Linked DNA regions of Homo sapiens: all the other regions are linked to region 1. The links come from fine-mapping of genetic effects on plasma protein levels. A gene starts in region 1. Each other region holds a variant in brackets. All regions are shown on one strand. Distances are between the middles of the regions.

Evidence for each region. PIP is the posterior inclusion probability: the model's chance that the variant is causal. Protein levels are from antibody-based Olink assays in UK Biobank. Linkage for the fine-mapping came from a reference panel and not from the study's own genotypes, which makes the PIPs less certain.
Region 2: its variant is fine-mapped to the plasma level of the CEACAM20 protein (UK Biobank, PIP above 0.99).
Region 3: its variant is fine-mapped to the plasma level of the CEACAM20 protein (UK Biobank, PIP above 0.99).
Region 4: its variant is fine-mapped to the plasma level of the CEACAM20 protein (UK Biobank, PIP above 0.99).

What each region holds. Positions count from the first base shown.
Region 1 is chr19:44,526,269-44,534,291 of GRCh38, forward strand. CEACAM20 (CEA cell adhesion molecule 20) reads right to left here and starts at 3,407. Exons shown (of 12, transcript NM_001102597.3): 1 at 3,190-3,407. The coding sequence starts at 3,241.
Region 2 is chr19:44,515,131-44,523,153 of GRCh38, forward strand. It overlaps CEACAM20 (CEA cell adhesion molecule 20), which reads right to left. Exons shown (of 12, transcript NM_001102597.3): 4 at 7,504-7,782; 5 at 5,344-5,622; 6 at 1,816-2,094. Among named protein-coding and RNA genes, the nearest start is that of CEACAM20, 11 kb to the right of the region's middle. The variant G/A (reference allele first, on the strand shown) is at 3,508.
Region 3 is chr19:44,503,423-44,510,196 of GRCh38, forward strand. CEACAM20 (CEA cell adhesion molecule 20) reads right to left here. Exons shown (of 12, transcript NM_001102597.3): 12 at 2,737-2,792. The coding sequence ends at 2,739. Among named protein-coding and RNA genes, the nearest start is that of ZNF180, 6.3 kb to the left of the region's middle. The variant C/T (reference allele first, on the strand shown) is at 4,253.
Region 4 is chr19:44,492,056-44,500,078 of GRCh38, forward strand. It overlaps ZNF180 (zinc finger protein 180), which reads right to left. Exons shown (of 5, transcript NM_001278509.3): 2 at 5,229-5,322. The coding sequence starts at 5,279. Among named protein-coding and RNA genes, the nearest start is that of ZNF180, 4.5 kb to the right of the region's middle. RefSeq lists an enhancer at 7,737-8,023. The variant G/A (reference allele first, on the strand shown) is at 4,556.

The DNA of each region.
Region 1 (8,023 bases):
GAGGCTGAAGTGGGAGGATCACTTGAGCTAAGGAATTTGAGACCAGCCTGGGCAACATAGTGAAGCTCTGTCTCTACCAAAAATTTTTAAAATTAGCTGGGGGTGTTGGCCCGCATCTGTAGTCCCAGCTACAGTCTGAAATGGGAGGATCACTTGAGCCTGGGAGTTTGAGGCTGCAGTGAGCTATGATTGCACCACTGCACTCCAGCCTGGGTGACGGCAAAATCCTGTCTTAAAAAAAAAAATAGAAACACACAAAAAAATGAGTTCCCAGTTTTCCATTTGATCATTCTGCACACCACTACGGGGGCTGCAAGAGACTATGGGACCTGGCGCGGTGGCTCATGCTTGTAATCCCAGCTCTTTGGAAGGCGGAGGTGGGTGGATCACTTGAGGACAAGAGTTCGAGACCTGGTCAACATGGTGAAACCCCGTCTCTACAAAAAAATACAAAAATTAGCCAGGTATGGTGATGTGCACCTGTAACCTCAGCTACTTGGGAGGCTGAGGCACAAGAATCTCTTGAACCCAGGAGGAAGAGGTTGTCGTGAGCCGAGATTGTGCCACTGCACTCCAGCCTGGGTGACAGAGCTAGACCTTGTCTCAAAAACAAACAAACAAACAAAAAAAAAACACGAGACTTTGCTGGGGCCCAACCCCAGCAGCTGTGCTCACACGCAACTGATCTCATCTCTCCCATGAGCTCAATTAACACAGACCCTCTGCACTTCTCAAAAGGGCCCCAATGTGGCCCAAACACTGCCCCATTCCCTGCCCAGTGAGTGAATAAGGGCACGAGCTCTTAGGAACAAATATGAACTCTGTCACTTACTAGCCCTACTATCATGGGTAAGGGACTTTCTCTTTGTGAGCCTCAGTTTCTTCCACTGAAAAATGGAGATAATAGTAGAACTCAGCTCATCTGGTGGTTGTGAAGGCTGAGTGAGATATCAAATGTGGCATGCTTAACACAGTTCATAGCAAATATTCAGCCACCATGATGGCAACGATGATGATGATGGTGGTGGTCTTGATGATGAGTTCTTGTGTCTGTGGTTTCTCTGCCTCAAATGCTATTAGAGGTTAGGCTCACAGCCTCAGAGCCTGACCACCTGGGTTTGAATCTCATCTTTGCCATTTATTTGGTCAAGTGATGTTCCCTATCTGAGCCTCAGTTTCCCCATTTGAAAAATGGCGGTAGTAACAGTTCCAGCCTCACTTAACTGTCATAAGGATAAGTGAAATGATGTAAGCAAAAGCACTGATGGGGCCTCATCATACCCACCCGAGACAGGAAGCCTCTCTGTGGAAAGCCTGCCATGGCCCCTTCCCTCTGGCTTTCTTCTCACAGGGTCCTGCCGTTGTCCTACCAGGAAGAGGCAACACTTACAGACTCACTGTGGATGCGGCTGATAACTCTCAGCCTCCCAGGACTACAGAGCCCCTGCACCCTTCCAGGGTTAGCCAGGAAGCGCCGGCCCAGAGAAGGAGAAGCTGGTCTCAGGGACACACAGCAAGGCTGGGCTGAGCCCTCACCTCTGCACATGACCTGTTGCAAAATCATGTCTTCACTTCCAAAATACTTTTTTCATCAAAATATTCTAGTTTCTGCCTTTTGTCTCAGATGCCTTCTAGGCAGAAATTTCACATCCATCCCCATCCTGATCCGTGGACCTGGCCGCTCAGGGCTGGCACAGCCTCCCTCCACCTGTCTCTCATCTGCTTGTCTGAATCTCTGTGATACTCCAACTCTCTCCCCGCGTTTCTGAATCTATTTCTGGCTGTGTATTTACCCAGTTCTTTCCCTGTCTCTTTGTCCTCTGTCTCCCTCTCTTTCTGCCCCTTCCTGTTTTTCCCACTGGTATCTCTTTCTTTCTTTTCTTTCTTTCTTTTCTTTCTTTCCTTTCTTTCTTTCCTTTCTTTCTTTCCTTTCTTTCTCTCTCTCCCTTTCCCTCTTTCTTTCTTCTTTTTCTTTTTTTTGACAGAGTCTTACTCTGTCACACAGGCTGGAGTGTAATGGCACAATCTCGGTTCACTGCAACTTCTGCCTCCCAGGTTCAAGCAATTATCTGCCTCAGCCTCCCGAGTAGCTGGGATTACAGGTGCCCGCCACCACACTCAGCTAATTTTCGTATTTTTAGTAGAGACGGTTTCACCATCTTGGCTAGGCTGGTCTTGAACTCCTGACTGCGTGATCCACCCGCCTTGGCCCCCCAAAGTGCTGGGATTACAGGCGTGAGCCACTGTGCCTGGGCCCCACTGGTATCATTTCTAAGGTTATTTTTTCACCCTTTGTCTCTGTCTCTGTGCGTATCTCTTCTCCCTGTATTTCTCTCTCTTTCTCCCTGGGTCTCTGGTTCTGTGGCTGTGACTCCATCTTTCTCTGTCTCTCTCTCTTTCTCTGTGTACACAGACACACAAACACACATCTTTGTCTTTCTCTCTTGTCTCTGGTCTCTGTTTATGTCTCCTTCTGTCAGTCTCTTGCATCTGTATTTTTTTCTGTCTCTGTCTCTCTGTGTCTGTTTCTCTCTCTGCCTCTGTCACTCTTTCCTCAAGTATACACACACACACACACACCACTGACAAATATACATATATCTTTGTCTCTCTGTCTCTGGTCTCTGTTTATGTCTCCTTCTATCTCTTTTGTATCTATGTTTATTTCTGTATTTCTCTCTTTCTTTCTTTTTTTTTTTTTTTTTTTTGAGACAGGGTCTTGCTGTGTCACTCAAACTAGAGTGCTATGGTGTCATCTCAGCTCACTGCAGCTTCCACCTCCGAGTTCAAGGTTCAAGTGATTCTCCTACCTCAGCCTCCCAAATAGCTGGGACTATAGGAGTGTACCACCACACCCAGCTAATTTTTGTATTTTTAGTAGAGACGGGGGTTTGCCATGCTGGCCAGGCTGGTCTCAAACTCCTGGCCTCAAGTGATCCACCCACCTCGGCCTCCCAAAGTGCTGGGATTACAGATGTGAGCCACCACGCCTGGCCCTATCTTTATATCTGTATCTGTCTTTATTTCTGTCTCTGTCTCTGTGTCTCTATTTTTTTTCTCTGCCTCCATCTCTTTTTCCTCGAGTGCACACACACACACACACACACACACACACACACACACACACCGCTGACAAATAGATGCATACAACCTCCCTCCTCCCGCATCTGAAGGAAGCAGGGCACTCACCTGAAAGCAGGATTCCCATCCAGTGGTGTCCCCATGAGTCAGCAGGCCCCATGGGTCCCGGCACCTGACTTCAGTGTGCCAGGCCGTCTGTCGCCCCGGCTTGCACACACAGATACAGTCCTCACTCCAGGTGCAGCCCCTCCACCTCCCTTCTCTCCTCTCCCACCCTGCTACAAACTCACACACACACTGCAGTAACTGCAGCTCCCAGGACAGACAGGGGTGGTGGCAGGAAAGTAACTTTGACCCCACCTCTGCCCTCTACCCCCAGGGCTCACTTTCCTTCCCTGCCCAGCACAAAGAGCGGGAAGTCCAGGAACCCTGGAGACCGGGAACTGCGATTACGATAGTCAATAGCAATGATAATAAAAAACAACAATGACCAGCTCCTTGTCCCCGAGAGCTTAATAACCAGTCCCAGTGCCAAGTTCATTATAAGCAGCCAATAAATATTAAATGAGCCGGAATCATGCTTGTGATATAGATCCTGGTCATAAACAAAAGCTCTGGAGTCAGACCGGCAGGAATCTCAGACTGAGCAGGACTGGGGGACCTCCAGGAGGAGCCTGACGTGGTCTTGGGAGAAGGGGCAGGGAGGGCCTCCTGGAGGAGTGGACATCTGAGCTGAAACTTCGAGAACATAGTAAAGGTTCCATATATAAAAGTTACTTAAAAAAAAATCTCTATGACAAGACAAGCTGGTGGTCTTTGACAGTGTATAGACCTAGACCCAGAAGATTTAACAGAACCGACCAGCTGAGGGAACTATCATTAATCCATGTATCCATCCATTAATTTAACAAATACTTCCTGAATTCTCTTCCTTTTTTTTTTTTTTGAGATGGAGTCTTGCTCTGTTGCCCAGGCTGGAGTGCAGTGGCATGATTTCCCCTCCCTGCAACCTCCACCTCCCAGGCTCAAGTAATTCTCCTGCCTCAGCCTGCCTAGTAGCTGCAACTACAGGCGTGCGCCTCCACACCCAGCTAATTTTTGTATTTTTAGTAGAGACGGAATTTCACCACGTAGCCCAGGCTGGTCTTCAACTCATGAGCTCAAGCAATCCGCCCGCCTCAGCCTCCCGAAGTGCTGGGATTACAGACGTGAGCCGTCGCGCCCAGTCCTGAATTCTCTCCTATGCTGACCCCTGCTCCTGGTGGTACTGGGGACACAGCTCTGACTAAGACAGCCCCAACCCTGTTCTCACAGAGGCTCACAGTCCAGTGGGGGAGACAGAACTGTCCCCAGACAGTGACAACCCAGAGTGGGCAGGGCTGGGATGGAGGAATTCAAAGGGGGCGCCTGGCTCAGCTTCAGGATCAGGGAGAGCTTCCTGGAAGAGGGGACATGGTAGCTGAGACCTGAACAACATAGGGGTGAGCCAGGGGGAGCAGCATGTGAAAAGTTTTTGAAATTGGGGCACAGAAGGAAGGTCAGGTGGGTCTAGAATAGAGGAAGTGAGAGAGGATGGATGATTCAACAGGCGGCTTAGAAAACTCTGGAACTGTTACTTAGGGTATGAGGGGCAGCTTGGCATTGCAAGAAAGAGATCGTGACTCACTCAGCTGCCTCGTTTTGCTGCCCTGCTTCCGTCTTGCTCCTGCTACAGGCAGTCACAAAGTATCTGCCCTGATAAAGCATAAGGCCGAGCCAGCTGGCTCTGGAGCCAGAGTGCATGGGTTCAAATCCTGACTCCCCGACTTGCTAACTGGGTGGCCTCAGCAGGTCAGCTCCCCTCTCTAGGGACTACTTTCCTCAGCTCTAAAATGGAGATGATGCCCAGGCACACTGGCTCACATCTGTAATCCCAGCACTTTGGGAGGCTAAGGTGGGAGGATCACTTGAGCCCAGGAGTTCAAGACCAGCCTGGGCAACATAGTGAGACCCCATCTCAATTAAAATAAAATAAAGCAGAGTAGATGATGATGCTTTTGTCTCCTAGGAAGCTCTGTGGTTATGAGCACTTGACCTCAGTGTGCCAGGCCATCTGTCACCCTTGCTTGTGGCACCATTTACAAGCACTAGGCTAGCTGGCTGCCTGGGCTGGCAAGACAGTCCTTTACATCCCAGCCATGGTTCATTGGGAAAAATTTGTCACCCTTGCATGCTTCCGTGTGCTCCATCTGCAGACTGGGAGAAATCACAGACTCCCCGCACAAGACGGTTGTGAGGATCGAATGAGTGAGTGCCAGGAAAGTGCTCAGAGCAATGCCTGGCACAGCGTAAGCCATCAACAAATGTGAATTCCCACTGGATGTCATGACTGCCCTGCATCATAATCTCACTGCAGCCCTGTGAGGGGGTACGCATTCATTCACTCTGTTACTGCTGTGGACTGAATGTTTGTCTCTCTGTCATTCAGATGTTGAAGAAATCCTGATCCTGCACGTGATGGTTTTAGGAGGCAGAAACTTTGGGAGGTAATCAGGTCCCTCCCAATGGGATTAGTGCTCTTATAAAAGGGACCTCAGAGAGCTCTCTTGTTCACTTTCCACCACGTGGGGAATGCAACAAGAAGACAGCAGTCTGTCACCCAAGAAGAGAGCCCCCACCAGAACCTGACAAAGCTACCACCCTCATATAGGCCTTCCAGCCTCCAGAACTGCATGAAATAGCTTTCTGTTCTTTACAAATCACCCATTCTGTGGTCTGTTCTAGCAGCCCGAACTGACCGAGAGCCACTCAACATATATTTCGTGAGTGTCTACTGTGCCTGTTCTAGGTGCTGGGGACATAGCAGGTAATGAGACCATCAGACGAGGCCAGGTGCAGTGGCTCATGCCCATAAATCCAACACTTTGGGAGGCCAAGGTGGGATGATTGCTTGAGCCCAGGAGTTTGAGACCAGCCTGGGCACCCCTCTCTACAAAAAAATTAAAATAAAAAAAAATAGGCATAGTGGTGCGTATCTGTGGTTGCAGCTACTCAGGAGGCTGAAGAGGGAGGATTGCTTGGGTCTGGGAGTTCGAGGCTGCAGTGAGCCATGATCGCACCGCTGCACTCCAGCCTGGGTGATGGAGCAAGACTCTGAAAAAAAAAAAAGAAAAAGAAAGAAAGAAAGAGAAAGAAAGGAAAGAAAGGAAAGAAAGGAAAGAAAGGAAGAAAGAAAGAAAAGAAAGAAAGAAAGAAAGAAAGAAAGAAAGAAAGAAAGAAAGAAAGAAAGAAAGAAAGAAAGAAAAGAAAGAAAGGAGGGAGGGAGGGAAGGAAGGAAGGAAGAAAGGAAGGAGAAAAAAAAAAGAGTGGGGTAAGGAATATGATTATTCCATCCCATAGTTAAAAACACTGAAGCTCACAGAGGTGAGATGACTTGGATAAAGTCACAGGACATCTCAGGCCCTGGCCCTCAACCTCCATGTGCGTGTGCCTTTTTCCAAGGGCCCTTCGCTATTCCCCAGCCACACCTTTCTGTACACCCAGATCAATGAACACCAATGTGGCCACATCACCCCGCCACGCCTTCAGACTCTATGGGTCCCTGTACTGAAGGCGCCTGACCCAGACCAGCCCAGCATTCAAGGCCTCTGCCACCCACCTCGTTCTTCCCAGAATGTCTGAACCTTCTGACCACCCACCTTCTCCTAAGCCAGCTTCCCTCCCCACCACCTCTGCCCTGAGGCACTCTCCCCTCTTCCCCTCCTCCCCATCCAAGACAACAGAGCTGCTGCTGGAATGGACTTCCCAAATCTGCCCCTTCATGCAAAAGCAGGGTTTCCTCTCCTGAAATTCCCACCAACTCACCCACTCAGCCCCCAGGGCAGATTCTGTTTTTTGCTGCCCCAAGGAAAGAAAGGGACTTTCTGGGCCCCTCCCTGTAGCACAACTTCCAATTATTTCCAACAGGTGAAAATAAACCAGGTCCTCTCCACTTCCCACCCTTACCTACCAGGTCTCAGCCATGCAGGCTGGCTCAAAATTGTGTCTTCCCACGGGACTGACCTCCCAGCCCAGGATGCTGCCCTATGACTGTGCCCTCACTGAGGCCATTCACTCAGCAAAGATTTGTATGGCCCTACTATGTGCCAGGCACTGTTTCAGGTATCAGGGCACGCCAGCAAATGAAACAAACAGAGATCTCTGCCTTTATAGAAATGACATGTAATGAGTGCTGGGAGGGGAGGAGGGAGACAGATAATAATTGAGATACGTGGAAAATAACTGGCTGGGCACAGTGGCTCATGCCTGTAATCTCGACATTTCGGGAGGCTGAGGCAGGAGGATCACTTGAACCCAGGAGTTTAAGACCAGCCTGGGCAATGTAGCAAGATCCCATCTCAAAGTAAATAAATAAATGTGCTTTTTTAAACATTTAAAAACATGAAAATATTAAAATTAATTTTTTTTTAAAAAAATTAGAAAACGTAGCCAGCCACAGTGGCTCATGCCTGTAATCCCAGCACTTTGGGAAGCTGAGGTGGAAGAATCACTTGAGCCCAGGAGTTCAAGACCAGCCTGGACAACATAGGGAGATCCCCATCTCTACATAAGATCAAAGTTAGCTGGGTATGGTGGTGTGTGCCTGTACTCCCAGCTACTCAGAAGGCTGAGGCAGGAGGATCACTGCCTGGAGTTTAAGACCAGCCTGGGCAACATAGCAGGATCTCACCTCAAAGTAAATAAATAAATGCTTTTAAAAAATTTAAGAATGCAGAAACATTAAAAATAAAAAAATAATAATTAGGAAATGTGGCCAGGCACAGTGGCTCATGACTGTAATCCCAGCACTTTGGGAGGTTGAGGTGGGAGAATTGCTTGAACCCAGGAGTTCAAGACCAGCCTGGGCAACATAAGGAGAACCCATTTCAACACAAGATCAAAAAGTTAGCTGGGTATGGTGATG
Region 2 (8,023 bases), 11 kb before region 1:
CCCGGCCTCTATAGACTTTTGAAGGGATTAATGAGATCTTGTATAAAACTACTAGCACAGTGCCTGATACATACCAGATGCTTGACAAATGATGATGATGATGATGATGATGATGATGATGATGATAGAAGCTGCTATCTAGCAAGCTCTAAGCACCAAGAGACCTTCATACATGATCTTATTCAAATCCTACAATATCCCCGTGAGCATCAACTGAACTCCCTGCTGCCTTCCCTGAGCCTGTTGCTCCATCCATCAAATGGTCTTAATAAGACCACAAGATTGTTCTGAAGATTAAATGAGGTAATTTGGAAGTTGATATAAATGGTGTCCTAGGCTTAGTGAACAACTTGAGGAGGCCAGCCTGGTTTCAAACCCCAATGACAGGATTTGAGTCTATAGGTCTCAGTTTCCCTTCCTGTACAATGAAGAAACCAACAGGCTCACCTCAAAACTGGCTGACAGAGAGTACCCAAGAAGTGTTTGCTGATATTATATATGGGAAAGTTGGATTCAGACATGTGGCACAGGCTCAATAAATAATAATTTTAGGCTGAGCTTCGTGGCTCAAGTCTGTAATCTCAGCACGTTGGGAGGCTGAAGCGGGACGATCACTTGAGCCCAGGAGTTTGAGACCAGCCTATGCAACATAGGGAGGCCCCGTCTCTACAAAAAAATATAAATAAAAAACTAGCTAGCTGTGGTGGTGCACACCTGTAGTCCCAGCTTCTCAGGATGCTGAGGTAGGAGGATAGCTTGAGTGTGGGAGGTTGAGGCTTCAGTGACCCATGATCATGCCACACACACAAAAAAAGGAATAATTTTATTTGTTTAACAAACACAATATGCCAAGCACTGCCCTAAGAACTTTACAAATGTTCACAACCTTCAACAACCCTAAGAAATAGGCAGAATTATTATGTTTTACAGATAATAAATCAGAGGCCCAGAGAGGGTAAGTAACTTGTCCAAGGTCACACAGCTAACAAGCATTGGAGAAGGATGTGAATCCCAGTGAACAGTGACACTGTTACCTTCTCAAGAACTAAAGACAGAGATACAGGGACTCCCTGCCAGTCATGTCCAGTTGTTATTAACATCATTTCCGATTCCCCATATAGCTCACTCCTTCCCTCACTGGGTATATCTCTGACTCATTGTCCTTCTAAGCAACTCTGAAAGATAGGCATCACGATATGATTTGGCTGTGTCCCCACCCAAATCTCATCTTGAATTGTAGCTCCCATAATTCCCAAGTGTTGTGGGAGGGACCTGGTGGGAGATAATTGAATCATGGGGGTGGTTTCCCCCATACTGTTCTCATGGTAGTGAATAAGTCTCACGAGATCTGATGGTTTTATAAAGGGTTTCCCCTTTTGCTTGGTTCTCATTCTCTCTTGTCTGCCACCATGTAAGACATGCCTTTCGCCTTCCACCATGATTGTGACACCTCCCTGGCCACGTGGAACTGTGAGTCCATTAAACCTCTTTTTCTTTATAAATTACCCAGTCTTCAGCATGTCTTTATCAGCAGCATGAAAATGGACTAATACACATCACAAACCCAATTTACAGGCAAACAAACTGAAGCTCAGAACAGCTTGGAGAGTTTTCCAGGGAACACAGCAGGAAGTACAGGTTCTACATTTCCCTGACCACTAGGGGTTGGGATTCAACAGCTGTGGACTGAGAACCTGCTCAGGCAGTGTGGAGACTGCCACACTCCAGCCCTCGGTAGGGGTAGACTAGGTAGCTGGGACCAGCATCAGGAAAGGCCCCTCGGGTCCTGGGAGAAGGCGACCCTGAGAGACTCACCTACCACCTTGACCAGGACTGAAGTGGAGCGGGCCAGGCCAGTGAGAGAGTTGGAGGCTGTGCAGTTGTAGATCCCGTCGTGTTCCCAGGTCAGAGCCCTGATAATCAGCTGCTCACCCAGGTGCTCCCCGGTGGAGTGTTCAAGAGTCCAGCGATACTCAGCACCTGGCTTGGACTCGGCCCAACACTGCAGGGTCAGGCTGGAGTTGAGCTCTGCCTCTATGGTGCTGATCATCTCAGATGCCGACTCCCTGGTGATGTGCACTTGGTCAGGACCATCTGTGTGTAAAGCCAAACGTGATGCACCCTGGCCCCCATCAGCGAGTCATCCCATTCTGCCCCATTCACTTTCACCTTGGAATTTCAGTAAAATAAACAGAACATACTCCCTTTTCCTCCTTAGCTCTCTGACAAGCAGAGTGTGGTCCACAACACTGGGGGTGGGGCAGATCAAAACAAAAACAAGGGCCAGGCATGGTGGCTCATGCCTGTAATTAATCCCAGCACTTTGGAAGGCCGAGGCAGGCAGATCACGAGGTCAGGAGATCGAGACCATTCTGGCTAACATGGTGAAACCCCGTATCTACTAAAAATACAAAAAATTAGCCGGGCGTAGTGGCACGCACCTGTAGTCCCAGCTACTCGGGAGGCTGAGGCTACAGAATTGCTTGAACATGGGTGGTGGAGGTTGCAGTGAGCCAAGCTCATGCCACTGCACTCCAGCCTGGGCGACAGAGCAAGATTCCATCTCAAAAAAAAAAAAAAAAGAAAAAAAACTGCCTTTGTAAAAGTTAATTCAAAGAAGTGTTTTAGGTCACCCAGGCATCAGAAATTGTTGCTAGGCCAAGCGCAGTGGCTCACACCTGTAATCTTAGCACTCTGGGAAGCCGAGGTAGGTGGATGTGAGTGGAACTCCTGAGACCAGGAGTTCAAAACCAGCCTGACCAGTGTGGCGAATCACGTCTCTACTGAAAAATAAAAATAAAAACTAGCTGGATGTGGTAGCACATGCCTGTAATTGCAGCTACTCGAGTGGCTAAGAATCACTTGAACCTGGGAGGCCGAAGTTGCAGTGAGGCAAGATTGTGCCACTGCACTCCGTCCTAGGTGATAGAGTGAGACTCAAAAGGAAAGAGGAAAGAAAGAAAGAAAGAAAGAAAGGAAGGAAGGAAGGAAGGAAGGAAGGAAGGAAGGAAGGAAGGAAGGAAGGAAGGAAGGAAGGAAGAAAGCAGGCAGGCAGGCAGGCAGGCAGGCAAGAAGGAAGGAAGGAAGGAGAGAGAGAGAGAGAGAAAGGAAGGAAGGAAGGAAGGAAGGAAAGGAGGGAAATTGTGGCTGCGTCCTGTGTATATAATCCCTAACTTCTAGTACTGTGTATTCTCAATGGTATAAACACGTGCAAATTTTCTTTGTAATGTCAGAGGGGATCATTGTCACTTTTCTCTTCCACCACATATAAGAAGGAAACAAATGAAAGTAGTTGTTGGATTTCTCATATAAATTAAAAGAGTTTAGGCCTGGGGCTGAGGCTCATGCCTGTAATCCCAGCACTTTGGGAGGCTGAGGCAGGGAGATCACTTGAGTTCAGGGATTCAAGACCAGCCTACGCAACATAGTAAGACCCTGTCTCTATTTAAAAAAAAAAACCTAAAAGAGTTTAAGAGTCATACTTTATTTAAATTAATGTAAAATACT[G/A]GAAAGGATGCAAAAGGTTGCTAATTGAGACATTCTAGGAGGGGAGGAATACCCTGACTCTGCTCCCTCCTAAACATCATTTGAACCTGCTCATTTCTCCCCATCCTGACCCCATTGACACTTGGATCCTTCACCTGCATCCCAGCTCCTCCTGGTCTCCCCATCCCAGTCTCATCCTCCACACAGCAGCCAGAGAAGTCTTCCTAAGTACTAAAGTGTCACTGTCCCTCCTGTGTTCAGAACCCTCTGTGGCTCCCCAGTGCCCTTGGGACAAAGCCTATGTCTGAAGAGGCCATTTACAATTTGATTCTTACAGACCCCCTCCAGCCCCACCTTTCCACACCTCTTGCTCTCATTCAGGAATTAAATCCCACTCGGAGATTCCATCCTTGTTACACTCTCTCTTGCCTCAAGGCCATCGCACACTCTCTTCCCTCTGTCTAGAATGCTCTTCCCTGACTCTGCTCTAAGCAGCCTACTCCTACTCATCCTTCAGCTCTTATGGTGGACATCCCCATTCATGATGACCCTTTGCAACATCCCCCAGATGGAGGCTTCCTTTGGGCTCCCCATACCCTCCCTTTGTCCCCCGGGGTCCCATTTATCATGCTATGTTTTATCTGCCTGCTTAGTGACCTCCCCATCCCCAGCAGGCTGTGAAAGCTGAAAATCATGTCAAGTATCAAATGCCCAACATGTTGCTTAGCACAGAGAGAGCACAAAACATATATTTTTGGTTTAATGACTGAATTGAAAAGGAAAGAGGAGTGAGCAACAGAGAAGTGTAAAGAGGAGCAAAGACATGTACTCAACCCCTACCTCTGTGTTCCCTACTGCTTCGCATGTATGAAAGTGCACCCCTCCTTTCTCTCCCTGCAGAAACCTCTTCTCCCCCAATCTTCTCCATCTTGGTTCGTGACTCCTACATCCTTTCGGTGGCTCAGGCAATAAACCTTACAGTCATTCTTGACTCCTTTCTTTCTCTTTCACCTAATATCAGTCAGCAGCATATTCAAAATACATCCACAGTGCAACCATTTCTCAACACCCGACAGTTGCCATTCTGGTCCAGCCCTATCATCTCTTGCTGCGCAACTCTGGCCACCAGGAGAAGCTCTTCAAAGACCTCCAACGGCAGAAATGTAATTGACCAAGGGCCCAATTGCTGTGCCCCCAAATCTACTCCCAGCCCTTCCACAGGCTGCACCCTGCCAGTACCTGAGTGCATCCAGGAAACTAAGGCAGGCCCCTTCCTGGGAGATATGGAAGGTCCCAACAGCCATGATGGGTGTTCCTTCAAGTGCATGGTTATCCAGGTGCTTCCATTCAAGTCTCTGTCCCTCACCCTGTCACTCGGGGTCACACTTGCATCTCAGTCTCTCAGTCTGATGGCTCTCCCAGCCTCCCTGCAGCTGCCTCCCTAGTTATCCTCACAGGAGCATTTCCCCTAATAAAACCCTTGCATGAATAATCCCGTTAATCCCACCTTGGGGTCTGCTTCTCCAAGGATCTGGACAAATACAACTCCTTCTCTCACTCCCCCTCTCCCCCACTTCTATGTTTGCCTCCCTGTAGACAAAGGCCAGTGAGACCCTGTGAAAGCCTAAATCTGGTGGTGTCCCTAAGCCTTATCACCTGCTTCTCTGTTTATGGTCTGGCTTCTCCACTAGAACATAAGCCCCCTGAGGGCAGGCACTTGGCCCTGTCCAGTGCCCAGATTCATGCCTGACACAGAGCAGGAGCTCAATAATCATAGCATGAATGACTAGAAGGAAGAACTTAAAGAGAAGGAGGGAAGCAGGGAGATGGGGAAGGTCCAGGCCCTGGGTGACTCACAGTTGATGGTCAGCTCAAGGGGCTCACTCCGGGCCCGGCTGCCCCAGTTCCAGACCTCACAGGCATAGGGCCCGGTGTCATTCCGCTGGAGGCCATGGATGATTAGGGTCCTGTTGTCAGCTGACAGCTGCAGGTGCTCACTGGGCAGGAGGGGCTGGCCACTTAGGAACCACTGGACATTCACACTCTGATTGACGGTTTGGCAGGTCAGGTCCACAGACCTAGCATTCTCCACAAGGTTCAGGCTTGAAGGCACGACTTGAGGCATGGTCAGTGTTTCTGGAAACACGTGGAGATACACAGTCAGGTTCAGGGAGATTTCCCTCATCTCCTGCCCTTGTGGGGCCCACAAGTTTTTCCAGGAGTGCGTGCGTGTGTGTGTGTGTGTGTGTGTGTTACAGGTGGTGTATATGATTTGCATAATGCTGGTGTGCGGGGTACGTGTATGTCTTTTGTGGATGAATGTGTGTCGTGTGATTATTATGTGAATATGCAATGAGTTTTGTGTGTATGGAGAGTGTGTGGTGTGTAAGTGTTTTGCGTCTCTTGTGTGTGTTGGGTGTATGTGTTGAATATGAAGTATGTGTGTGGTACACATATGCACTTTGTATGTGAGTATATGCTATGTGTATATATTTGTTGTATATGAATGTGTGTTCTGTGTCTGTGGTATTGTTTGTGTTATGTGTTTGTGTTGTGTGATGTGTGCATATGCTGTATGTGCTGCATGTGGTATGTGTGTGCATTTTGTGTGTGCATTGTGTGTCTGTTGTATATATGTGTTGAGGGTGTTGACTGTATGGTATATGGTGTGTTTTCCATGTTGTCCATCTTGAGTGTCTGTGATGTTTAATGGTTGTAATGTTTAGTAGGTGCTGAATGTCAATGATATGTGTTGTGTGTGTCCATTAGTGCATATTAGGTGTATATATATTTTATGTGAGTGTGTCATGTATATGTGATCTTGTTTGTTGTGTAGATGTATGTGAGATATGTATGTCTGCGTTTTGTATGTCATGTGTGTTGTACATGTGTTGTATGTGTGAGCATTTTGTGTGTGTGTTGTGAGTTTGTGTATATGTGTTGTGGGTTTGTATGTATATGCTGTGTGTATATGTGTATGTGCTGTGGGTTTGTGTGTATGTGCTATGGGTTTGTATGTGTTGTGGGTTTGTGTGTATGTGTTGTATGTCTGATGTGTTACGTACTTTGTGATGAGTGAGTTGTACACCTCTGTTGTGTGCATGCTATATGTTTGTATGTTTTGTGTGAGTGTGTGTTGTATGTCTGTGGTATTGCACAGTTGTGTACGTATTATATATGAGTTGTGTTTACTGTGTGTATTGTACATGCACGTGAGTGTGCTGTTCATGTGGGGATATTATCTGTGTGTGTACGGAGTGTGTGAATGTTGTGTTAGTGTTTTTAAATGTAGACAGTTAAACCCCCCACCTCCAGAGAGTCAAATCATGGGCAACCCCTAGAGAGCCACCAGGGTCTCGTGCAGGATGTGCCAAGCCAGGCAAAGGAGCCAGTGTGCCCAGCCTTCCCTGTAGTCGGAGCCCTGCTGCATTGGAAATCCCCCTGGGTCCTCCTCAAACTCTGGGGTATTGGTGTAGCTCACTGGCTCTTAAGATTTTTTTTTTTTTTAGACAGAGTCTTGCTCTGTCGCCCAGGCTGGAGTGCAGTGGCGTGATCTCAGCTCCTGCAAGCTCCGCCTCCCAGGTTCATGCCATTCTCCTGCCTCAGCCTCCTGAGTAGCTGGGACTACAGGCGCCCACCACCACACCTGGCTAATTTTTTGTATTTTTAGTAGAGACAGGGTTTCACCATGGTAGCCAGAGTGTTCTCAATCTCCTAACCTCGTGATCTGCCCACCTCGGCCTCCCAAAGTGCTGGGATTACAGGCGTGAGCCACTGCACCCGGCCTCTTAAGGTTTTTTTTCAGAGTTCAAGATCCCTTCAAAAATCTGATGACAATCCTAGATCCTTCCTCTAGAACACAGCGCAAACATTTTTCATGCAACTCAATGTCATGCAGGGATTTCTCCCTCACACAGTATCCAAAGGCCCTGGATTAAGAACTCCTGGTTCCTTCTGACATGGCCAGCATCTGACGCTCAGAAGAATGAAGGAGAGGAACCGGGAAAGGAGACTCACCAAGTACTCGGACCTTCAGAGTACCCAGGCTGGACAGGTGGGTGGCACTGTTGGACACCAAGCACCTGTACAGGCCCTCATGTTCTCTGGACACAGCATGGATGGTGAATGTTCTCGTGGTGTGAGACAGAATGGAGTCAAGGAGAAACCAAGTATAGGCACAGGGTGGGTGAGACTTTGTTTCCGCTAAGAAGGTCATGCTGGAGCCCTCCATCACCTCAACCACCTCCCCACTGGCAACACCAGACTCCAATTTGATTTCAACAGGATCAGGACCATCTGAGAGGACAGGAACAATTACAGCAGTAACAACAGCATCAGCAACAGGTCTCTTATGGAGGTCTTTAACGGATCAATAAATACTTTATTTCCCTCCTCCCCACTCAAAGGCTAGATCAATTGCAAACGAGGTACAGCAGTCAGATGGAGATGAAATGTCAGCCTCATCCCTGGGTAAAGCAAGATTGAAAGACACGTCTAAAGTATGCCAGCTGAATGGTTATTGTAGCTCACACCTGTA
Region 3 (6,774 bases), 23 kb before region 1:
AGAAGAGTTACCACTGCTGGGCGCAGTGGCTCACGCCTGTAATCCCCACACTTTGGGAAGCCGGAGCAGGAGGATCACTTGAGCCCAGGAGTTTGAGACCAGCCTGGGCAACATGGTGAAACCCCGTCTCTACAAAAAATACAAAAATTAGCTGGGCCTGGTGGCACAAGCTGTAGTCCCAGCTACTCAGGAGGCTGAGGCAGGAAGGATTGCCTGAGCCCAGGAAGCAGAGGTTGCAGTGAACCAAGATTATGCTACTACACTCCAGCCTCAGCGACAGAGCCAGACCCTGTCTCAAAATAAATAAATGAATAAATAAAAATTTTAAAGAGTTACCACTCAGGAACATTCTAGAAAGATGCCTATCTAATCTAGAGATTTATCTGTCAACTGTCGGGAAGAGCTGAGACCAAAGTTTATATTAAGATTCTGTTTATTGGCCATGAATTGGATAAGGGCTCAAGATACAGTGAAGAGCAAGAAGATTATGAATCCATTTACTATAAATACTAGAAAACAAAGTAAGAGTAACGAGAGGGTAAAAGGGCATGATCTGTCTCTAGGATGTCAGGGGGAGGGGGACATTTCTTGGCAGGGAAGAGGAAAGTTCTCAGGGTTCAAATAGGGTGGTGTTTCTGGTACTACTGAGTGCAACCCTTAAGATCCTAATTCCGGTCTCTTGTATCACATCTAATGATTAATTTTTAAAATCTGAATTAATGTTATCATCATTATGATAGCCATTCAGCTCCAAGGATAGCAACAACGCATTCTGAAAACTCTTCATTTCCAGGAGTTTTCAGTGTTGGTTTCCCCCTGTGTTAACAGTCCTTTTTTGTCTCCTTTGCTTGATCTCTCCTGTAAACATCAGAGGAACCCAGGAATCAGCTGTCAGCCTGTCCCTTGCCTTGTCTTCATCCACTCTGCTTGGGGTTGACATAACAGGCCTATTGCTCAAACTCTGTAAGTTCCCCAGAAGGTCCTGTTTTCCTGACTAGCCTTTGGGCAGCTCTGGGAACTGAGCTCTCATAATGTTCTATCTGGTAAGAGTGCTTTTGTTTGCCTGAGGCCTTGAGCCATGCTGTACCACTTTGTCCAGATGGTTTATACTAACAGTGTAATTTATGGAGGAACATCTGCTTTCCTTCTAGGAGTCTGGAGCTTCAGTGACTGACCCTTTATAAAAACCATGGACACCCAGGTTTAGGTGAGCTTCCCTCGATGGCAATGCTTCACACACGTTGTCACACATCATTGCTGGGGGATTTCCCATGTGCTGTGGTTTGGATATTTGTCTCCTCCAAAACTCATGTTGAAACTTAATCCCCAGTGTGGCAATATTGAGAGGTGGGGGTTTTTAAGAGGTGATTGGCTCATGAGGGTTTTGCCTTCATGAATGGATTAATCCATTCATGGACTAATGGATTAACGGGTTATCATGGGAGTGGAACTGGTAGCTTCATAAGAAAAGAAAGAGAAACATGAGCTAACATGTTACCACACTCAGTCCCCTTGGCATGTGATTCCCTGCACCACTTCAGGACTCCACAGAGAGTCCCCACCAGCAAGAAGTGCTCTCACCAGATGCAACCCCTAGACCTTAGACTTCTAAGCCTCCATAACTGTAAGAAATAAATTTCCTTTTTAAAACAAATTACCCAGATTTAGATATTCTGTTATAGGCCAAAGAAAGCAGACTAATACACCATGTGACTCCACTGAAAGAGAACACTTGGAAGCTGGTGCAGGGTATCCTCCAGACTTCACCCCATGCACCTTTTCCCTTTGCTAATTTTATTCTCCATCCTTTTGCTGTAATAAACTATAACCATGAGTATAACAATTGGGTCCTATGAATTCCTCTAGAAAATCTTTGAGCATGAGGTGGTCTTGGGGACCCCCCTGACAGAGGAGCTCATCCAGCCCCATAACTTTAAGTCCCACTGACAACTCTCAAATGTGTATCTCCAGCCATGATCTGTCTAGATTTTTATGAACAATTGCCTACTTGATTCTGCAACTGATTCTTGACATGTCTAAATTCTTGACATGAAGCAAATTCTTTATTTCTCTCCTTATCCCAAAGTTTCTCAGAAAGTGACCTGCCAATCATCCAGTTGCCCTGGCAAGAAACCATGGAGATATCCTTGTCTCCTAACTCTCTTTACCTTCAGCAAATCTCATTCTGACTCTCTCCGCCCCTGCAGTTCTCAGGATTCTAAGCATTTCATGCCTACCTCTCCTCAGGAGCCTCAATCCCTCACTTCACTACGTGTTTTCTCCTTTTATTAAGAGCTCTTAATTTCTTAAGAGCTCCTTGTTCCTTATCTTCTATCATGATTTGAAAAGCCACTTCTTCTCTGACACCTGTCTTTGTCCCCTACTCCTCTCTGGCTGACTCAGACTCACTCTTCTCTCTGGAGTCCACCAACAGTGTTTGCTCATCCTCAGCCTGCAACTATGATATCCTAAGCTGTTCAGTCTCAAACCTTGGTCCTCTAACTCTAGATCCACGGGCTGTCATTTTTACCCTTACTATTGCTTTGAAAAAAAATATGAGTCAAAATCTAAGATTCTATGGAAGCCAGGGCCTGACCAACCCATTGCAGTAGAACATCACAAGGTCTACAGAGATGACAGAGAATGACTGGCTTATAATATGCACTTAATAAATGTCATTAAATATATGATCAAGCATGGTTTCTCTAGGACTCCTGGAGAAAAGATCTCTGCTTCCATTAGACGGAGGGGTTGATTTGGATGTAAGTGTTGGGCTCTGGATTCACAAGCTCCTGTTAAACAAAGAGAAAATGTGAGCTCCATTTGCTAGGTGGACCCTCCCAGTCTACTCACTGTAGTCTGGGGCCCAAACAGCCTGGAGCTTTCCTTTCTTTGGAAATTCCAAAAATCTTCCTCCATTCTCATCACACTTTAGTAACCCTGGCACATCTCTGTTCCTGGAATGGCCCATGTACTTCCCCACTGTGGTAAACAGACTCTAAAGTGGTCCCCATAATCCCTGCCTCCTGGTATTCATTCCTTTATGTAATCTCCTCCCCTTGAGGGCAAGACCTGTGACTTGCATCTAACCAATAGAATATGGCAAAGGTGGCAGGATATACATGATTGCATGTATGTGATTCTGTTACATAAGATTATGACTTCTGTCTTGGCTTGAAGAAGCAAGATGCAATGTTGTGAGCTGCCTGTGGAGAGGGCCACATGGCAAAGAACTGAGGATGACCTCCAGCTGACAGTAAGAAACTGAGGCCCTCATTATGACAGCCTGCAAGGAACTGAATGCTGCTAATGACCACATGAGCTTGGAAGTGGATCCATCCCCAGCTGAGCCTCAGATGAGACCTGGGCTTTGACTGGCACCTTGATTATACAGCCTTGCAGAAGAGCTAACTAAGCAATGCCTGAACTCCTGACCCACAGAAACTGTGAGATAATGAATTCATGTTGTTTTAAGCTGCAAAGTCTGTGGTAATTCATTATACAGCAACTGATAACTCTACACCCTCTTCAGGGCCTTTTTTACTGATGCCTCTCAAGTTGGAATGTTTCCTTTCATACTGTTTGCATGGTTTGCTCCTTCTAATCCCTCCAGAATGTAGCAGACACTGAGTTCACTGAGTTGACTGACCTAACCTTCTTCCCCACACCACCTCCCTTGCTTGCTTCTATTGAAGAGGCTGGGAATGTTAATGTACCACTTTCTCAGCCTCTGTTGCTACAAGGAGCACCATATGACCTTATTCTGGCTAATGAGATATAAGAGGAAGCTTACTAGGTGGTATTTCTGGGAAGACCTTTTGCCCGACTAATAATAGGAAACAAACATGGCTCCCCTACGCAGACACTGGTGAAGAGAGGGACTTAGGTGGCTAAGTTTTTACCAGTTCAAAGCTGATTAGAGAGCTGACAAAACTAAACATGATCCATACCATGGCCTGAATCAATCTGATTCTTCTATGGAGAATTTGAACCTAGAAATGCTTAAAGGGCAGCAGAAGATGTTGTTATATATACTCTGAAGTTATAGAGAAGCAATGACCAGGACATTTACATAGAAATTCAATCTGGATTGAGAAGAATGAGATGAATTCATAGATTAGTGAAAATGAGAAACTGTATAATAAGAGAGAAACAGCTTCTTGATAGCATTCAAGTCGCCAAGAGGCCCAGGAGTAATTTCTGAAATTGAGTTATCTGATATTTCTCAGTGTTCTCTCAATTAATCCCCATT[C/T]GAACTACATTCAAAGGGTTTAACTTTCTTAACATTAAAAATTCTTGACTAAGATATTAATATATGAAACATTCAGCCAGGTGCAGTGGCTTGCGTCTGTAATCCCAATACTCTGGGAGGCCAAGGTGGGATGATCGCTTGAGCCCAGGAATCTGAGGCTGCAGTTGGCCATGATCGCACTACTGCACACAACCTGGGTGAAAGAGCAATACGTTGTCTCAAAAAACTAAAAAGGTGTATAGGATATTCACATTTTTCAAGAATAGTTATCTGTCTGTTAGGCTAAAATCTACCCTTCTTTTACCTATCCTCCATGGTAATTTATGTGCCCTCTGGAACAACAAGGAACACATTTATCCCTCTACTTGAAGCCTGTCAGACACTAAAATATTGGAGTTCTCTGTCCCTAAACTTTCTCTTTTCCAAACCCAAGAAAACCCTGTCAGTAGGACATGGATTTGAGCCCCTGTTCTGGCCTCTCTCTTATTCCTCCTCTGGATAAATTCTGACTGGTCACTGGCTTGTTCAGAATATAGAATCTGAAGTCCATTCTTGGAATTGGAGTAATCTGGCTGTCCTGATGACAGGGTTGAGATCACTTGCATTCTCTAAAATAATTCTACTAGTCCTTAGAACTATGGAGCCATCACTTGACTGCTCTAAACTTGTTACTGGAATTTTGCTTATGCCTGGATGAACTAATAGTTTTCTTCTTTTTTATTTTTTTCTTTCTGAGACAAGGTCTTGTTCTGTTGCCCAGGCTGGAGTGCAGTAGCTCGACCTCAGCTCACTGCAACCTCCGCCTCCCAGGTTCAAGTGATTCTTCTGCCTCAGCCTCCCAAGTAGCTGGGATTACAGGTGCCTGCCACCATGCCCAGCTAATTTTTGTATTTTCAGTAGAGACAGCGTTTCACCATGATGGCCAGGCTGGTCTCTAACTCCTGACCTCAAGTGATCTGCTCGCCTCCACCTCCCAAAGTGCTGGGATTACAGGCGTGAGCCACCGCGCCTGGCCCAGTTTTCTTCTTTTTGAATGATGTAACTAATCATACCTCTCTGTTTTATTGTTACCAGGAAGCTTAGAGACACATAAGAGATATAGTGGCAGATATCACGTAGGCCCAGTATATATTTTTACTTTTTACCCATATATTGACTTCTTGCTATTGTTAAAAATATTTTTTCTGATTGTAATTTCTATTTCTAATTTAACACCATTTTGTAGTGTTGTATATAAACTGCTTCAAATCTTCCATGGGAAAAACTGCTTCAAATCTCCCATGAGAAAAATGTGGGGAAGTAAATATCATGAATGAAATGAAAGATTGGAAAGGAAAGGAAATGAATGAAAAGGAATAGACTATTTAGGAATGTAACTGAAAGAGATGGCAAAGGCATAAATGAAATGGAGGGAAATTGAATAGGACAGAAAGGAATACAATAAAAATTAAAGGCAGAGAATGGAGTGAAATAAAATGGCATGATGTCCAAAGAAGTGCAAATGAAAGAAATTAAATGAAAAGGAAAATTGTAACAGAAAGAAAGAAATAAAGTAAAATAAAATGGAGCAGAAAAGAGAGTAATAAAATAAGGTAATGAGGGGAGAGAAGTGGAGAGGAAATTAGAGAAAAGTAATATAGTAGAAGGAAAGTATAACATTAAAGAATAAAAATAAAGCAACGAAATTAAAAAAAAAACAGAAAAGGGGGGAAATGGAATGCCATGGAATATAAAATAATGAAATGAAATGAAACTGAAATCAATGGTATAAAGAGTAGGAAATGCAAAGGACTGGAAAGAAATGGAAAGAACTTAAATGAAATGAAAAGGAGTGGAATGGAATGACTTGAAAAGAAGAAATTAAATGGAAAGCTTGAAAAGGAAAGTAATAAAGACAAGGGAATGAAGTGCCATAAAGGGCATGAAGGGAGAGGATGAAGTGAGAAAACATGCAGTAGAATGGAATGGAATAGAATAGAGTGGGGTGGATTGGAAAGAAATGAAAAGGGAAAGGAATTGAAGAGAACAGAGGGAGAGGAATGGAAAACAGTGAAATAGAATTGAATGAAAGGGAAGGGTATGGAGAAGAGAAAGTGAATGGAAAAGAAAGAAGGGAATGGGAAAAAAGAAAAATTGAATGGAAAAGAAATATAAAGAATAAGAACTGGAATGTAGTGGAATGAAGTGAAAACCAATCAAATGGAAATGAATGTAAATAGGGACATTGCCTAGGAAGGAATGGAGAGGTAGGAAATAGAACGGATGAAATGGATTAAATATATGGATGGAAATAAGAAGACTGAAATGGGATGGGAAGAATAAGAATGGAAACGAAATAAAGTCGTGGGATGGGAATTGAGTGGGCTGGAATAAAACAGAGTGTAATGGAATGTAAAATAAATGAATTGAAAGGAATTAAAAGAAAAAATAAAAATGGATAAAATGCAATAGAAAGAAAGGAAAAGAATGAAAAGGAATGAAATAAGAAAGAGATGGAAAGGAGTGTAAAGGGATCAAACAAA
Region 4 (8,023 bases), 34 kb before region 1:
CTCCTCCATGAAGCGTTCCCAGATAGCAGAAAGCTTCATCTCTTCTTCTCTCAGGACTTCTTAGCTTTGGTGGCCCTTTACTATACCAGTAAAATTATTCTCTTCATATTACTACCATTTCTATATACCTCTCCCCTGGGTCCTGGGTTCTATATTAGAAAGCACTGTGTATTTTTTATCTTTGTATTCTCCTCAGTATTGAGTAGGAGCACAATAAAAGTTCTCTGCATTTGACAAGACTAGAGACACGTGCAGAGTTTGGGACATAGGAATAGAATTAAAAACTTTTACTCTACTTTCTGTATGCTCTGGAGCATCTTTAAATTACCCTCTTGTTCAACAGTCACCTCTCTAGGTCATAAAGGAGCATTTCCCTTTTTCTTTGCAGACTTTACGAAATGGGAACAGGAATTAGACTGTTGACTTGCACAGAGAAAAGGGTTGTGGGCAGGAGATAATAATTGTTCCTTCTGTAATGTATGTGGGACCCCATGGGAACCAAAGCAGGGGGAAAGAGACAAGCAGAGCTATCATGGAGTGACCTGTCCGCTTCATAGTAAGACAGTGGTCAAATCAGACCTAGGGCTAGGGCTATTTGCTCACCTATAAATAGAGATGACCAAATATTCCTTTCCCAATCTGAGGTATTCTTGGGGCAATAAAATGAAGTTTCTAATCAAATCACAGAAATATTACTGGACTCAATTCTCAGAGCTTTGCTTTGGGGGTCTACTGGCAGGAAACCCTCTATATCTGTGAGAACATTTAGAAAACACAGGCGTCACACAGGCAGACTTCTTGGTGTGTTTCCATCTCTTCCTGCCCTGGGAGCTGGAAGGTGGAGCTCACATTTCAGCTCAAGGGATATGGCGTCCACAGGGCCCATGTGGGAGGCCCTGAGGTTTCTTAATCACCAAATCTAGAAGGCGTAAAACCAATATTCACAAACTACAGCACTGGAAAGAAGGTTCCCTTCCCTGATTTTCTCAGAAATCATCCTGACAAGAGGATCCCTTTAGTCCTCACGCACAAGAAAATTCCCTCTCCTGCCCCACCTTATCATCCATGAATAATTCTCACTGTCCTGAAATACACAGAATAGACCATCCACATAGGGCCACCAACAACCTGCACAACTTCGAATGTTGAGAATGACAGTGGATGGGTGAGATTCTACCACCTACTTGGCAGCAGTTTTGGTCTCAGTCCCTGAAGGCAGGTAGGGCTCAGAGTTGGCTCAAGGCCTTCGCTGGACCAGCTGCTACTTCCTGTGTATGAGCCACTAAAATCTCTAAGGTGATGCCCCAATACCCAGATGGTTTCTTCCTAGATCAGCTCACTGGACTCGTGGCCTTCGTTCAAAGCAAAGACTTTGGCTCCCTTGATTTTTCTCTCCCTTCCAGGGTTCTAATATCCTTCAGGTCCAAATCAAGTACTTGTTCATCTTCTGATAATAATTAAAATTAACTAGAGGACATTCAGAGTTGAGAAGTGTGGTAGCCAGACTCTGAGATGGCTCCCAAAGACCCTTACTACCTAGTATTCATGCCTTTGTGTAGTCCTTGACCAATGGTACCAAGGTGGGTCTGTGTGACCAACAGAATATGGAAGAAGTGATGGTGTGTCACTTCTGAAATCAGATGATAAAAGACATTGTGGCTTCATCTTGATTGTGTGCAACTAAGTGCTCTTGCTCTCTCTCTCTCTCTCACTGGGATCACCTGCTCTGGCAGAAATCCACTGCTATGCTGTGAACGCCCTGGAAAGAGGCCTCTCTGGTGTACAGCACCTCTTGCCAACAGCCATCTGAGTGAGTTTGCAACAATATCCTCCCACCTAGTCAAGCCTTCAGAAGTCAGCAGCCCAGACAACAACTTGCCTGCAACCTCATCAGGGACCCTGAGCACCAGAAACAACCAGTTAAGCTGACCTGGATTCCTGACCCTCAGAAATTGTGTGACGAAATAAACATTGGCTATTTTAAGCTGCAAAATTTTGGGGTATGTAATAACAGATAACTAATACAACAAACAGGATGTTTTTGCTTTCCCTATGTAGCCTTGGAAAGTATAAGAAGCGCGTTTCTGGTTGTGAGAACTAAGTCGTGCAGGGCAGTGCTGTCTGTCTCATCTTTCCCCACAGTGCTTTGCACAGGGCCTTACACTGGTTAGGCAGTCAATAAATATGTGACAAAAGTCATATAATGAACAGACTTCTAATTCAGCTCACAAAAAAGAAAATGGTAAAAGGACCATTAAGAGTCCCAGAAAACACCTAGTGCCTCGCTTAAATTAGAACACCAATGACCACATCAAAACACATTCTACCAGCCAGGCACTGCGGCTCACCCCGTAATCCCGGCACTTTGGGAGGCCAAGGTGGGAGGATGGCATGATCCCAGGAGTTCGAGACCAGCCTGAGCAACACAGCGAGACCCTGTCTCTACAAAAAGTAAAAAATAAAAAAATTAGCTGGGCGTGGTGGTGTGCACCTGTAGTCCCAAATACTCAGGAGGTTGAGGTGGGAGGATCACTTGAGCGCAGAAATTCCAGGCTGCAGTGATCTATGCTGGTGTGCCATGTACTCCAGACTGGGTGACAGAGTGAGACCCTGTCTCTTAAAAAACAACAAAATAACAAAACCCCACACATTTTACCTGTAGTTTTGATAAAGATATAAATGTAAACTTATATTTGCTTAACTCTTTCTAAAACAATTGCACATGTATACATGGAATCCCATACAAAACATTTATATCAATGCTATTTGTAACAGCAAAAAAATGTAACACTAAAGAGCCATTAACAATAAACCCATAAAACCTGTAACATATTTAGAAGGTGAAATGTGGGCACTAGGTATGCGTAGTGGTATTAGGATGTCACTGCTCCCAGCCCTCCGCGGACAGACAGGGAATCTGTGTGCACACATACGCACACCGATACAAGCACACATCTCTATATATTTCTAGATTAATGTGTACTGAAAACCATGAGCCCACAATAAAACCTCCAATTCCCACTGCACACCAGAGTCCACTCAAATGTTCTTTCTTGCCGTATCTGTACCTCCCTGATTTGATGGCAAGGCGCCTGGCTCCAGTCCCTTATATATACACTTACTTATCTGATCTAGCCCCCTGTAGGTAGTTCCTCTCCCATTTCCACAATGACGCCCTCTCCCTATGGATGCTTTCCCAGACTCCCTGGGCTCTGCCACCCCACACTCGGCCACCCTCTGCCCAGGGGAGCTCCTCACCCTGCTTAGGCTTTGACTCCCCGGGCTAGGCTGCCCCATCTCTCAGACTCACTCCTCTGCCACTTGGACTTGGACAGCCCACGTCAGGCCACCCCACTGTGTCAGTACCCTCCACATGCCGCTGGGCTCTGACACCCCTGCAGGCCACCCTCACGCATGATGCCCTCAACATGCTCATGCTCTGACATGCCACACCAGGCTGCACCTGACCCCCAACACAGGTGCACATCTCACCCCACTCTGGCTCCAACACCCCATCTACCATGGACACCTGCTCACTGCACTTGGGCTCCAACTACCCACAATGAAGCACCCCCTCTCTGGATGCCTTGCTCACCTGCTCTGACCCCATCACCCCACACCAGATCTCCATATATGGACACTGGCCTCAGCCACTTGGGCTCTGACACCCACATTGGGCTGCACCACGTGCACAAGCGACTTCTTCATTCCACTTGGGCTCTGACTATGCTGGGATGTCATCCTGTGCAGATGCACTCCTCACCCTGCTTGGTCACTGACACCCTGCACATGGACACTCTCTTCACAGCAGGCAGTCCTGACAACTGTAGGTGCCCCCTAACACTGCCCCACCTCACGGCTTCAAGGCTGACTTGTTCAGGAAGAGAAAGGAGAAGCTCTAATTTAACAGTTTTAAGAAATTAAGAGTTTTCAAAGAATATTTGCGGTGGGAAATGTTCTAAATTGTTAACTTGTTTTTTAGAGACAGAGTCTCACTCTGTTGTCCAGGCTGCAGTGCAGTGACACAATCATAGCTTACTACATCCTAGACCTCCTGGGCTCAGGCGATCCTCCCACCTCACCCACTCAAGTATCTGGGACTATAGGTGGACACCACTATCCTGGCTAATTTTTAAAATTTTTTATAGAGACAGGGTCTCACTATGTTGCCCAGGCTGGTCCTGTACTCCTGGCCTCAAGCAATCCTCCCACCTCGGCCTCCCAAAGTACTGGGATTATAGGTGTGAACCACTGTGCTTGGCCAATTGTCAATATTTTTACCTTAAAGTGTACTGTACAAAAATATGAAAATACAAGCCAGGTGTGGTAGCTTATATCTGTAATCCTAGCACTTTGGGAAGTTGAGGTGGGAGGATGGCTTGAAGCCAGGAGTTCGAGACCAGCCTGGAAAACATAGTGAGATATCGTTTCTACAAAAAATTTTTAAAATACACACACACAAAAAATATAAGCCAGGCTTGGTGGTGCCCACCTGTAGTCCCACCTATTCAGGCGGCTGAGGCAGGAGGATGGCTTGAGCCCAGAAGTTTGAGGC[G/A]GCAGTGAGCTAGGATTGTGTCACTGCACTCCAACCTGGACGACAGAGCAAGACTCTGTCTCAAAAAAAAAAAAAAAAAAAAAAAAAGAAGAAAGAAAAGAAAAAGAAAATACAGATAAATAAATGATAAAACAACTACAGATAATGTTTGTTAACTGATTGCTATATTTATAGTCTTCTAACATATTTTCTATATACCCAAAAACTATATCTCTTTTTAAAAAGTGATGATTTCTAAGTGCAATTTACTTAACATAGGTAATAAATAACTTTTTCTGTCATTAAATTTGCATTATCATCAGTTTCAATGGCTACAGTGTATTCTATTTCATGGTCTTATCGTAATTCATTCAGCTATCCTCTTACATTGCACATTTAGTATATTTCCAATTGTTCATTCTCAAAGCTGTGAATTGCTGGCCAAAAGGGAATCAGCATTTTAAGGGCTTTTGATTCAGGATGCCAAATTCCTTCCAGAAAGAGTTATCTGGGCTAAAAAGGTGAGGCAACTAGCAGGGAGATTCATAAAATATATAGTAAGTGTTAGAAGCCTGATGGCCATGAGGGCCTCAAACCCCCTAAAAGGCTGCAAAGAGAGTCAGGGAGGAGCCACAGCCTCCCAAGCTGAGAGGGTCAGGCTGCAGACAGACCCAAGCTCTGGGTCTCCACTCACCTGTGCACAGACCTTCGGGGGCTCTGGGGGCTTCTCATCCTGCTCTTCCATGCTCTCCTCCAGGCACAGCAGGGTGCTGAGGTCCTGAGCTGCACTGAGAGAAGCCCCAAGTACAGCATGAAGATGTAGGTCTGCCGGAACCGCTGGGCCCCCCACCCCCATTAGCCCCTGCTCCCAGGATGCAGGATGCATTCCCATAGCAAATGCACTTCTGGAGGTTCCTGCCAGCTTCCTGCCCAAATACCTGTGTATGTACTGAGAGTCCCTCAGTCCCTCTCCCAGGTCAAGTTTCTGCAGCTCCAACCTGGTTCCTCCACCATCTTGGGCCCCTGGACCATCTACCTGTAAGCCCAGCTTGTGCCCAACATGGCCTTCTGCCCACCACCAAAGTCTGCAGCACCAGTCCATCCCTCTCCTATTCACTGGGCCCTGGGATCCCCACAAATATCAGGCATATTGAGGACCCCCTGGTGTTCACCCCATCCTACCCCTACCAACCTCAATCTACAGCCCCAAACCAGCACTTCTTCCTAGGGCCAGAATCACACTCACTGCCTAACTGCATGAAGCTGGTGACACAGCTCCACTGCTCCCAGGAACTGATTCAACAACTAAGACTGATCCTACCGTTCCATCAGCCAGACCTGTCCCTCCAGCAACTCAGCACAGAGGGCCACCCACATCCTGCTCAAATAGCCAAGCATTTATGCACAGAGCTCAGCTATACCCACATCCTGTTCCCTCCACACTTCTGGGGTCCACTGGCTCCTACTCGAACAGCACCAGCCAGATTCCCACCCTAACACCCTCCCAGGCCCTGAATTTGTAGCTCTAAACCAGTCCCTCCACCAACTTGGGTATACTCAGGCCTGAAACTACAACAAGGCCTGCATAGGGCTGGGGGCCTCCAACAGACACCAGCACAAGCCAGACAAAAGCAGCCCTACCCAGGCTCTAAATACATGTCTCAGAAGCTCAGGTGCCTCTGTACCAACTAGGTGTTTTGGGATCCAAGACTAGAGGGCAAATCCTACCCTAGGCACCCCACCCTCTGCACTCCATCTCTCCCACTTACTCTCTCCCCTGCTCCCACCATATTCTCACGCAGCATAGCGTAGGTTCACAATGCAGCTGTTTCCTGAAATTGCACCCAAACTGTTTCCTCCACCTTACTCCACAGCCCCCTGCTTGAGCCACACCTGCCCAGATTCTGACCAAACATCTTTCGGGGGCACCTGTGGCTCAGGAAGATCCTGTCTTTCCACCAAACTGGGCACCATCAGGCTGTGATCAGGGTTCCAATCACACAAAGACCCCAGCACCCTCTGTCTAAAACTCATCTCCGGCCTCCTGTTTCCCAACCAAACACCGGTGTGTGTGCACAAGGGGTGCCTGACACAGTCCCGCCCCTCTGCAGCTGCTCCCCCCCACACACCTGGGCATCCTCAGGCAGAATCAGGGTCCTAGGACTGCCCATGCCTCCCCAATCTGCCCAAATGCCAGCACACGTGCAGAGTGTTGCTGGAGCAGCCCCGTGCCTCCTAAGACCAGATCCAAACTGGAGCCCCCAGGCCTCTATTCCACAGCCACTGCACACGGGCCACCCACCTAGACTCCCTCCTACTGATACAGCCACAGAGCAGGTTCGTGCTCACAATCTGCATCCAGGACCTGGCTCCTCTGCCCGTCTGGGGGCACACCATGCTCCTGAGTCAACAATCTACATCCCTCACCCTGTGTCTCAACCTGCCTGGGACATCTCAGGTACCCACAGCCTCTGTGTAGGTTCTGGGGTCAACTGCCCCACTATTTGCCCGCAGCCAGGACACTACAACAACTAAACAGTAGCTTGAGCATACAGCTCCATAATCAGCCCCAGGACTTGGGCACTCGCCAGCGTGGGGGTTCTCGAGCCTACGATACAGCAGCTCAATGGGAACTGGGCCCTTTGTCCTTCTCTTGCCCAATCATGACGGCCTGGGTGTTGTGCAGTCAGCTCTTCCCGGGACCAAATCTGCAGCACAGGCTCTGTCCCTCTACTAACCTGCACATTCTCACGCCTGCAAATAGCGTACCCAAGTAAAGGTCTCAGCAACACCTGCTTCATAACGATGCTGGCAACATACTGCTTCCTCCCCAGCTACCAATTTGATGGCAGCTGTTGCAGCTCTGTCCTTCCTGGACTTAAATTCTGTATCTCCAACCCGGAGTCTCTGCCCATCTTGAATGCTCTAGAGCTCTGCACTATCCTACATAGGTCCCTACTATCAGTTCAAGTTTCTGTTTTCCATTCAGACACCCCCAGGACGTGCAGGGGGCCCTCTGCCCAGAACCTGTTTCTAGGCCCTGATACCCTCCTTCAGCCTGGGAGTTTGCTGCCCATGGGTAATTCCCACCAAGGGTTCACTAGCAACACTGCCTCTTCTGGCACAAGAATCTGCAACTCCAATCTGGTCTCTCCACCAACCACAGCGCCCCCAGACCTTGGAGAAGCGCGTTGTCTGCTCTAGGGGCCCAGAGCCACCTGCTCGGAATCTTACCTACAACCTTTTGCTTCCTACCCAAATACCTGATCAAGAGTAAAGGGACAGTGGCACAGCCCCTCCTCTCCAGAAACCACAATCTGCAATGGAGCACTCCATCAACCCGGACATCCTCAGGCCTCCACTAAATAAGCCCGGCATTGGAGGAGGGGAGTTCTCAAGATGTCCCCTTACATCAATGCATGTGCCCTGTGTTCCAGCAACCTGGGCATCCTCAGGCCCCAGACAAGAGCACCACCTGACCAAGCACCC